Homo sapiens: one gene and its partner. The protein of the gene in region 2 interacts with the protein of the main gene of each other region in a biochemical or structural test. Each region holds a gene or a part of one and is shown on either strand. Other genes may lie near its edges.

What was found.
Region 1: the proteins of EFNB3 (region 2) and FRMPD3 interact in a test that uses a peptide from one of them, tested with the Homo sapiens proteins (one large-scale study listed by IntAct).

Annotation. Positions count from the first base shown.
Region 1 is NC_000023.11:107,596,152-107,599,651, reverse strand, and holds part of FRMPD3 (FERM and PDZ domain-containing protein 3), read right to left. Parts: intron 2,332-3,500; coding exon 1,510-2,331; intron 1-1,509.
Region 2 is NC_000017.11:7,703,796-7,708,001, reverse strand, and holds the start of EFNB3 (ephrin-B3 precursor), read right to left. Parts: upstream 2,801-4,206; 5' UTR 2,404-2,800; coding exon 2,282-2,403; intron 45-2,281; coding exon 1-44. UniProt on the Homo sapiens protein: Cell surface transmembrane ligand for Eph receptors, a family of receptor tyrosine kinases which are crucial for migration, repulsion and adhesion during neuronal, vascular and epithelial development.

The DNA.
Region 1 (3,500 bases), on a different chromosome or scaffold from region 2:
TAGATTCAACAGCTAGGAAATTTTTGTTAATTGTCCTAAAGAGGGGCTGGCAAAGAGAGGTCTCTCTCTATCCCTCCTCATCTGGCCAGGCCCGCCTACAGTCATTGCAGCTGAGGCCATTTAGCTGAGCTTGTCCTCTCTCCAGCAGCCACGTGGGACTCAAGCCTGGGAGCAACTAGCACTCTCTCCAGACTCTAAGCAAAGAGAAATGCCAGCCCTGGGGGCCAAATACATGGGGGTTGTCCAATGTCAAGGGTGTCCTCACACATGGAAAAGGCAGGCTCTCTCTGACCCCAATCCCTCGTGGTCCCTATTCCTCCCTATTCCTTTTCTGTTGCTGTGTCATTTACCTCTTCTCTTTCTTTTTTCTTCTTTTTTTTTTTTAGAGTCTCACTCTGTCACCCAGGCTGGAGTGCAGTGGTGCAGTATCGGCTCACTGCGACCTCTGCCTCTCAGGTTCAAGCGATTCTCCTGCCTCAGCCTCCTGAGTAGCTGAGACTACAGGTGTGCACCAGCCCACCCAGTTAATTTTTGTATTTTTAGTAGAGACAGGTTTTCACCATGTTGGCCAGGCTGATCTCGAACTCCTGACCTCAAGTAATCTGCCCACCTCGGCCTCCAAAAGTGCTGGGATTACAGGTGTGAGCCACCACGCCCAGCTCTCTTCTCTTTTTTTAAGGTGTATGTATATGGAGGGACATATGTGTGACTATGGGTATGTGTCTGACATGTGTTTGTCTACAAGATGGACATACATGTGTTTATAACAGGGAACAGCATGCATGTTGTACGGTTTTCCTGTGAACTAATACTTAGTTACAATAGCTACCACTTACTGAGGCCTTACTGTGTGCTAGGCAGTGCTTACATGCTTTGCATGAATGATCTCATTCAATCCTTGTGACAACCCCATGTGATAGAACTACTTTTATAAAACCCATTTAAGATGATGGAATGAGGTTCAGAGAGAGTAAGTGCCTTGCCAAAGGTTACACTGACAATGATTGAAGAAACCAGGACTTCGGTGCATCTGATTCAGAGCCCATGTTCTTAGGCAGGATAAAGACCTCAGCCATGAGCAGTGATGGCCCTTGGCTCCCCTGGTCCCAGGTCACTAGGTAGTGAGTTGGTCGTTTTCCTTTTCTTTCAATCATGTGCATGCTGGATGTTCTGTTCTTCACCTGTCTTCTACATCTCTCACAGTTTTTCTCTGATCCTCTATCCTGGCCTGCATCCATAGCTGTCATGACCCCAATCCCTGGGATCTATCTGTAAGGCATTTCCAAAGAGATGCAATGACGAGAGCCAGAACTCTAGCTAGAGCTGAGCAGCTGCTCCCTGCTGTAACATCATTGCTCCTCTGACCCTATCTAAAGAACCTTTGGTACATCCACTGCCCTGACATACCTCAGTGACTCTGACACCTATTTGGGAAGACACAATGTTACCTACTGGCCCTTGTTGGACAAGAGAAGGGGGTGGAAAGAGGGAGAAGGAATCGGTCATTACCTGCAGTCTGTGGGGGTGGTGGGTGTGGTCCATCCTCGGATGCAGCCAGGGCTTCTAGAGCCTGCAGAGTGGACACCAGGGCATCATCTAGCTCCTGGGCATGATCTCGAACTGTCCGGGTCTGCACACTGTCAATCAATGTCACTGGAATCTCATCGTACAGAAGCCCACGCAGGTGGCGTCCTTGTTCCTGGCTCTGGACAGCCCGGCGCTTGGGGTCATCCTCATCAGAGCTGTTGTCTCGGAAACCAGGGGGTGGGGCAGCAATGGCTGGCAACAGAGAAGTTGTCTCATCTTCCTCCTCCTCCTCCTCCTCACTCCCAGGTGGTGGGAGGGACATCAAATCTACTATATTGTCACGAGAGGAGCCAGGCTTCCCACCTTTGCGAGGGCCCAGCTGCTCCTGAAGTTTGGCTTTGCAAGAGTCACAGTAGAAATTCAGGGCTTCAGCCCCAAGGGAATTGTCCAAGGTGTAGGACCGGGCCCTGCTGGCACAAGGCTCGTGGTCTAGGCTAGCTGCATCAAAGTCATCAGGGACTACCTCATAACCTTGGCCAGAGCTTTTGGATGTGGGGTCAGACTTGGTTCGGGGCCTGGTCTCCTCAAAGAAGATTAGGTTCTCGTTGACATCTGTCCGGCTTTCCTGCTCCTTCCTTTGTTCCCGCATATGGAGGTAGCAGAAGCTGACAAGCTCAGAGTCGGCAGGTGGGGGCGTGCAGCGGCTCGATTTCCTGGGGCTGGTGCCCACGCTGCCCACATAACTACTCTCCTTTTTCCCCAGGTGGCCCCCAGTGACAGGGCGGTGGGCGCTGTGCATGTAATCTAAACCCAGAAAGAGAATCAACAGATGAGCCCTGGTGCCAAGGATTGTGAATGAGCTCCCTTGTTGTCTCTGGCCCATGTCTCTGTAGCACAATCAAGTGGCAGGTCCCAAGACAAAGCATTACCTGGCTGCCAAAGATTAGAGGTAGGGAAGTTGATGAGCTATGTTACTGCTGACCCTGAAAGTAGAGTGAATAGAGTCTAATAACCTGAGCTGCTAATAGCCCCATCACCTCTGAAATGGGAAAAGGCATGGGGTATGGTAGGGGTCGGGGTGAACACCCTGGTTTAGGGCCTGGTATCTGGGCACAGCTGGACTCTTACATGGATACCCTCTATCTGAAAGTCAGCTGTAAACGTATGTCCCACTTGGAACTGTTCCTACCCCTGTCCCCACCCCTTTTCAGAGCTTTTCCACCAGTGCTCTGTTGTTCTTGTTATCTTGAATCTCTTCTAGCAGAAGGAAATAAATCTGACAAGTTACTAATGCTTTAGTCAGAACCTGTTAAACAGGCTACATATAATGCCGAAGAGTTTGCATTTCAAAGAGGCCTGTTGATGGAGGGATCCTAAAAGAATAAGGCTCTATATTAGAATTCCGGGGTCTGAATGTGTAAAGTATATGGGAGATATGCTGGGATGTGCATATGTGGGAGGAGGGCAGGGGAAGCATTCTTATAATTCTTCAAATTTTATTCTTTTCTGCATTCATGCAGGGCCAGCCCTACCTGCTACACATACATATGGCAAATGCTCTCGTCAACCGCTCTTAATGATGGTAGGTGTGTGCATCTGAGAATTATCTATAGCAAATGCTTTATCTGTGAATACCTTCTCTCACTGTTTTTGGAGCTCTTCCCCATTTTATCTGTGAGAATATACTCGGACAGCAGACAGACAGATAACAAACAAGCACTAACTTAGGCTAAGGTCCTAATATACATGATCCTACTTATTCTTCATAACAACCCAATGAGGTAGTTATTATCATTATTCACATTTTAAGGATAAAGAAACTGACTCACCTAAGGTTACATAGACCAAGTGGTAGACTGGATTTCCGCCTAGGTCTGAAAGACTTCAAAACCCATGTTTTTAGCCATTACCCTTATAACTCATCATGGTGGTCAAGATGCTGGAAAACAAGCCTTCAAAATGCCACTCAAACT
Region 2 (4,206 bases):
CCCCGATCTGAGGGTACAGCACATAACCACCCTCTGCCTGGAACCTATGGGGAGGAGGGTAAGGTGGACAAGGAAGAGATGTCAGAGGCCTGGCCCCCAGAACTTTCCTTCCCTCACCCCACAACCTTCCAGGACAGCAATTCTCAGCTCACGCTTGCCCGCCTTTGTCTGAGTGGAAAGTCTCTTCTTATAGAGCAGGCACCAAGGACTCTGTGCATTCACATTGGAAGCAGCAGGAAGCCAGGCTCAGGGGTCTCCTGCCCCTTGGTGTGCCCAAATGCACTCCACTCTTCAGCCCGCCCTCACCACATGCACACCGCCATCTCCCGCTCCATCACCAGCCCCGTTGCCATGGCAACAGGATGCCAGTTACCAAGGAGCTGGCCTCTCTGGAACCACACAGCCCACCCCTCCCAGGTGATTTCACTATTCCATGGCAGCCAACCATGCGGGCAGAGCCTCCCCTCCTTCAGGCCACCACTGAATTTCAGGGATTTCCGGGCAAAGGGGGCGGCGGTTCAGGGAGGGGCTGTGTGGAGGGTGGTCCAGACCAGTGTCCTAAGTTAGCCAGCTAATAGCACAGAAGGCAAATGCCTGGTTTGGCCACGACCATCATTGGGGCTGATGGGAACCAGGGTCTAGGAACCTGCTGCCTGAGTCATTCTCCCACTCAGAATCCCACACTGGGTCTTAGACTTCTGGGGCAAGTGCTCTATTGCTTTGGAAAGGAAAGGAGTTGACTTTTCTAACCACAACCAACACACTTCACCATCTCCTTGGCCAGTGCACCCAGGCATCCACTGTCCCAGCACAGCCACAACTTGCCAACCCCTGCAGCCCCTTCCTGGACATCAATAGCTGCTGAGACAGGGTCTCAGGACTGGGTCCCAGGGGACTGCTACTTGATATCTTCCCAGACTCCCAAGTGTCCCACTCCCACCCCACATCCGAAAGAGCCCCCAGGACACCCTAACTCCCTTTTCTCTACCCTGTGAAAACAAGCTTATGTTCTCAAGCTACACACCTGATACTCACATTGCAGCTGGGAGTTGGCAGGTGGGTGACTGAGTACAGAAAAGACATTGAGATTATACCCAAAGAGATCCAGGGAAAAGAGAGGGAGGGATGGCAGAGCAGAGAAGTGTGAGGGAGGCTGGGAAGTAAAGAGAGGAACAATAATCCTAGCTCTCCTTTAATGAGCACATAATACATTCAAACACCTTACCGCTAATCCTCATAATAGCTGTAAGGATTGAGGATACAAACTCAGAAAGGTTAAGTGACATGCCCAAGGCCACACAGCTGAAAGCGGCAGAGCTAGGATTAAGACCAAAGATTTGATGAGCTCCAAAGCCCACCCCCTTCCCATGGCCTCACACAGTCTCCCCAGGGAAGTAGGAATTTTTCAAAACACAGAACTCTTTTATGAGCGGGAAGTGGGATCCGCATGTAGGCAAGGGACCCAGGTGACCTCCCGAAGGTTCTGTCCTACCCAGCGTGGCTTGAAGTTTCATCTGACCCCTGGCCTCTTTTCAGAGCAAAGCTGGCATGCCATGGAACAGAGGGTCTGATGGAAGAGTTTGCAGCAAAGATTGGGGGAGGGGGCAATGGAGTCCTCCAGATGCAAAAGGGAAGGAAGGAGGGTTCAGGGGGCTCCAGGCTTCTTCCAGCAAGATGCCGGCAAGCCAGGAAGGCAGGAATATGTTCTGGCTGGGAAATCGTTCAGCCAACAGTTCACTGACCCTCTGGCTGTGGGGAAGAGTTGGGAGACAGACTGTGAAGAGAGTCAAGGAGCCTTGGGGAAGTTGTCCCCAGAGCCCCCAAACGGAACCCCCTTGCCTCCCATCTCGGATGCGCAGTCCCTCTGGGGGAGGGAGGCACCCTGCCCTGCCTTCCCCTCAGCGACTCGCAGCACCTAATCTGCAGCTCTCTCCTGAGAGCTGACAGTAACCAGGCTCCCTCCAAGCCCAGCCCCCGACGCAGGCCTCCCACAGATCCAAATACCCACCTCACTGCCCTCCCGGCTACCCATGAACTTTCTTCTCCTTGCCCCTTTGGGGTCTCCAAACTCCTGACATCCATAGCACCACCCGCATCCAGCTCTGCGTGGGACCCGGAGTCTGGCTCCCAAGATCACCTGTCTAGTAACCCATCACACATCAGAGCACCAGCACCTTCCCTCCCGCCTCCTCCCTGCCCACAGAAGCCCGCCTCCAAGCCCCCAGAGCTTCCCTACCCACTGCCCTAGGGTCTGGGATCTCCCCAGCCGCAGGCCACTCACCTCTTATTCGCCGAGTTCCAGTAGACAGGCTCCAGGCTGAGCCCAGACACCAGCCCCAAAACCCCCAGCAGCAGCAGGGCCCCGACTCGCACGCCCCCCGGCCCAGAATGGGGGGGCCCCATGACCCCGCCAAGGCCTGGGGGGCGGGGCACCAACTCCCCCAAAGTCGCCCACCCCCCGGGGTGGCTGCCTTGGCTGCCTGGCTCTTCAGCCCGGACCACCCCGGTAGCTGATGCCCCCAGCGCCCACGCGGACCTGCTTCCTGCTGTGCCCGCGCCCCCGCGGCAGAGCGCTCAGCCCCACCAGAGCCCTTCCAGGGGCCGTCTGCAGGCGCCCTACGCGCCCCCGGCCCACGCGCCAGCACCCCGGGATCTGTGAGCCCGCCTAAGTGGGGGACTGGGGGAGCCGGGGACCGGGCGGGGGCGGCATGGGGCGCCGGACCAGGGAGCGAGGAAGGGGGCGCCGAGCCGGAGCCCCAGCCTCGCTGGGATTGAGGGCAGCGGGCTAAGGGAGGAAACCAGTCCCGAGCCCAGGAGGGGGGAGTTAAAGGAGAGGCGGGGAGGGGCAGAGGATGGTGGAGGGAAAAACCGGAGCTGGAGCTCGAGGCGGAGCGGGCGGCAGCATCCCGCGGCCCACGCCCCCCACACCTCCCTCACCTCGCGCACCTCCCGCCCGCCGCCCCGCCTCAGCCCCCGGCGCGGGCTGTCACGCCCCCTTTGTCTCTCCGAGCCTCTGGCTCCGGCTGAGTTCTGCCCGGCTCCCCTCCTGCCCTCCGATCGCCCAAGCTGCTGGAATCTTCCTCTCTCGAATCCAGAAAGGCTCTCGCCCTCTCCACCCCGAGGAACCCACCCCTTTCGCTCCCGCAGCCTCCTCCTCCATCCCAAAACAACACCGCTGCTCCCGGCAGGTTTGGAGAGAATAATAATAACCTTGAAGGCTTGGCGCTTTACAAAGTGCGGCGGAGCTGATCGTCACGACTACCTGTGTGAAGTGGGAGGGGCAGAGCTAACGATCCCATTGCAGAGATGAGGAAACTGAGGCTCAGGGAGGCCCCGTGACTTGCCCAAGGTCACACAGGAAGTCTGGGATAAAGCTAGAAACCAAACCCAGGCTGCGCACCTCCCACTCTTGGGGTCTCTTTTGTCACTGCTCCATGGACCAAGTGCTGTTGTTACCTGGGGGTTAGTGAAAAACAAGAGTTTAGGGGATACACTTGGGTCTTTCCTAGATGGCTGGGGGGAGAAGCGGGGCTGGGAGAAGAAGGGGCGTACCTACAACCCCAAACCGGCGCTGCGCAGGAAGGGCTGTTTCCAATTATCCTGGGGGAAGGGAGGAGTTGCCTTTTCGGGTGTAAGAGCCCTGGCTTTCAGCACCTCTGGGCAGGGGTGACATTCCTCTCCCTCTCAAGCCTCCCCAGGCCTTTCGTCCCTTCCCTTTGATTGTGAGGTCCAAAATCACATCCCCTGCTGGCAGTATTTCTTCAAAGTCCCCCCATTCTCAGTGTTTGGGAAGGTGTTGGGGGGAGGAGGGAGGAGTCACTGCTTCAAATGACACACTCGTCCCCCACCCCCAAAGACAGAGCAGACAAATGGAGAAACAAGCCCAGCGACAGCCGCTGAATGAATAAGACCCTCGCCGCGCCCCGCATGGAACAGCAATATCAAAGGTGACGACTGTATTTTTCAACACCTTTACTCTTTTATGTGTGTCCTTGACTCTGGCAACTGGGTTGTCTGCCTCCTGGGGAGCCCCGGGGAGCGGAGGAGAGTGCTCCTGCTCCCCTCAGAGCTGAGTAATGGTCCCCATGCTGCTGGAGAATGGCAAACAGTGTGGAGTGTGGGCGACAGGCGCCCTGTCACTGTCTGCACAGTCTCACACGGTCACACCCAACAGTCTGACCCAGCTCCTGCTCAGCCCCGCTCACC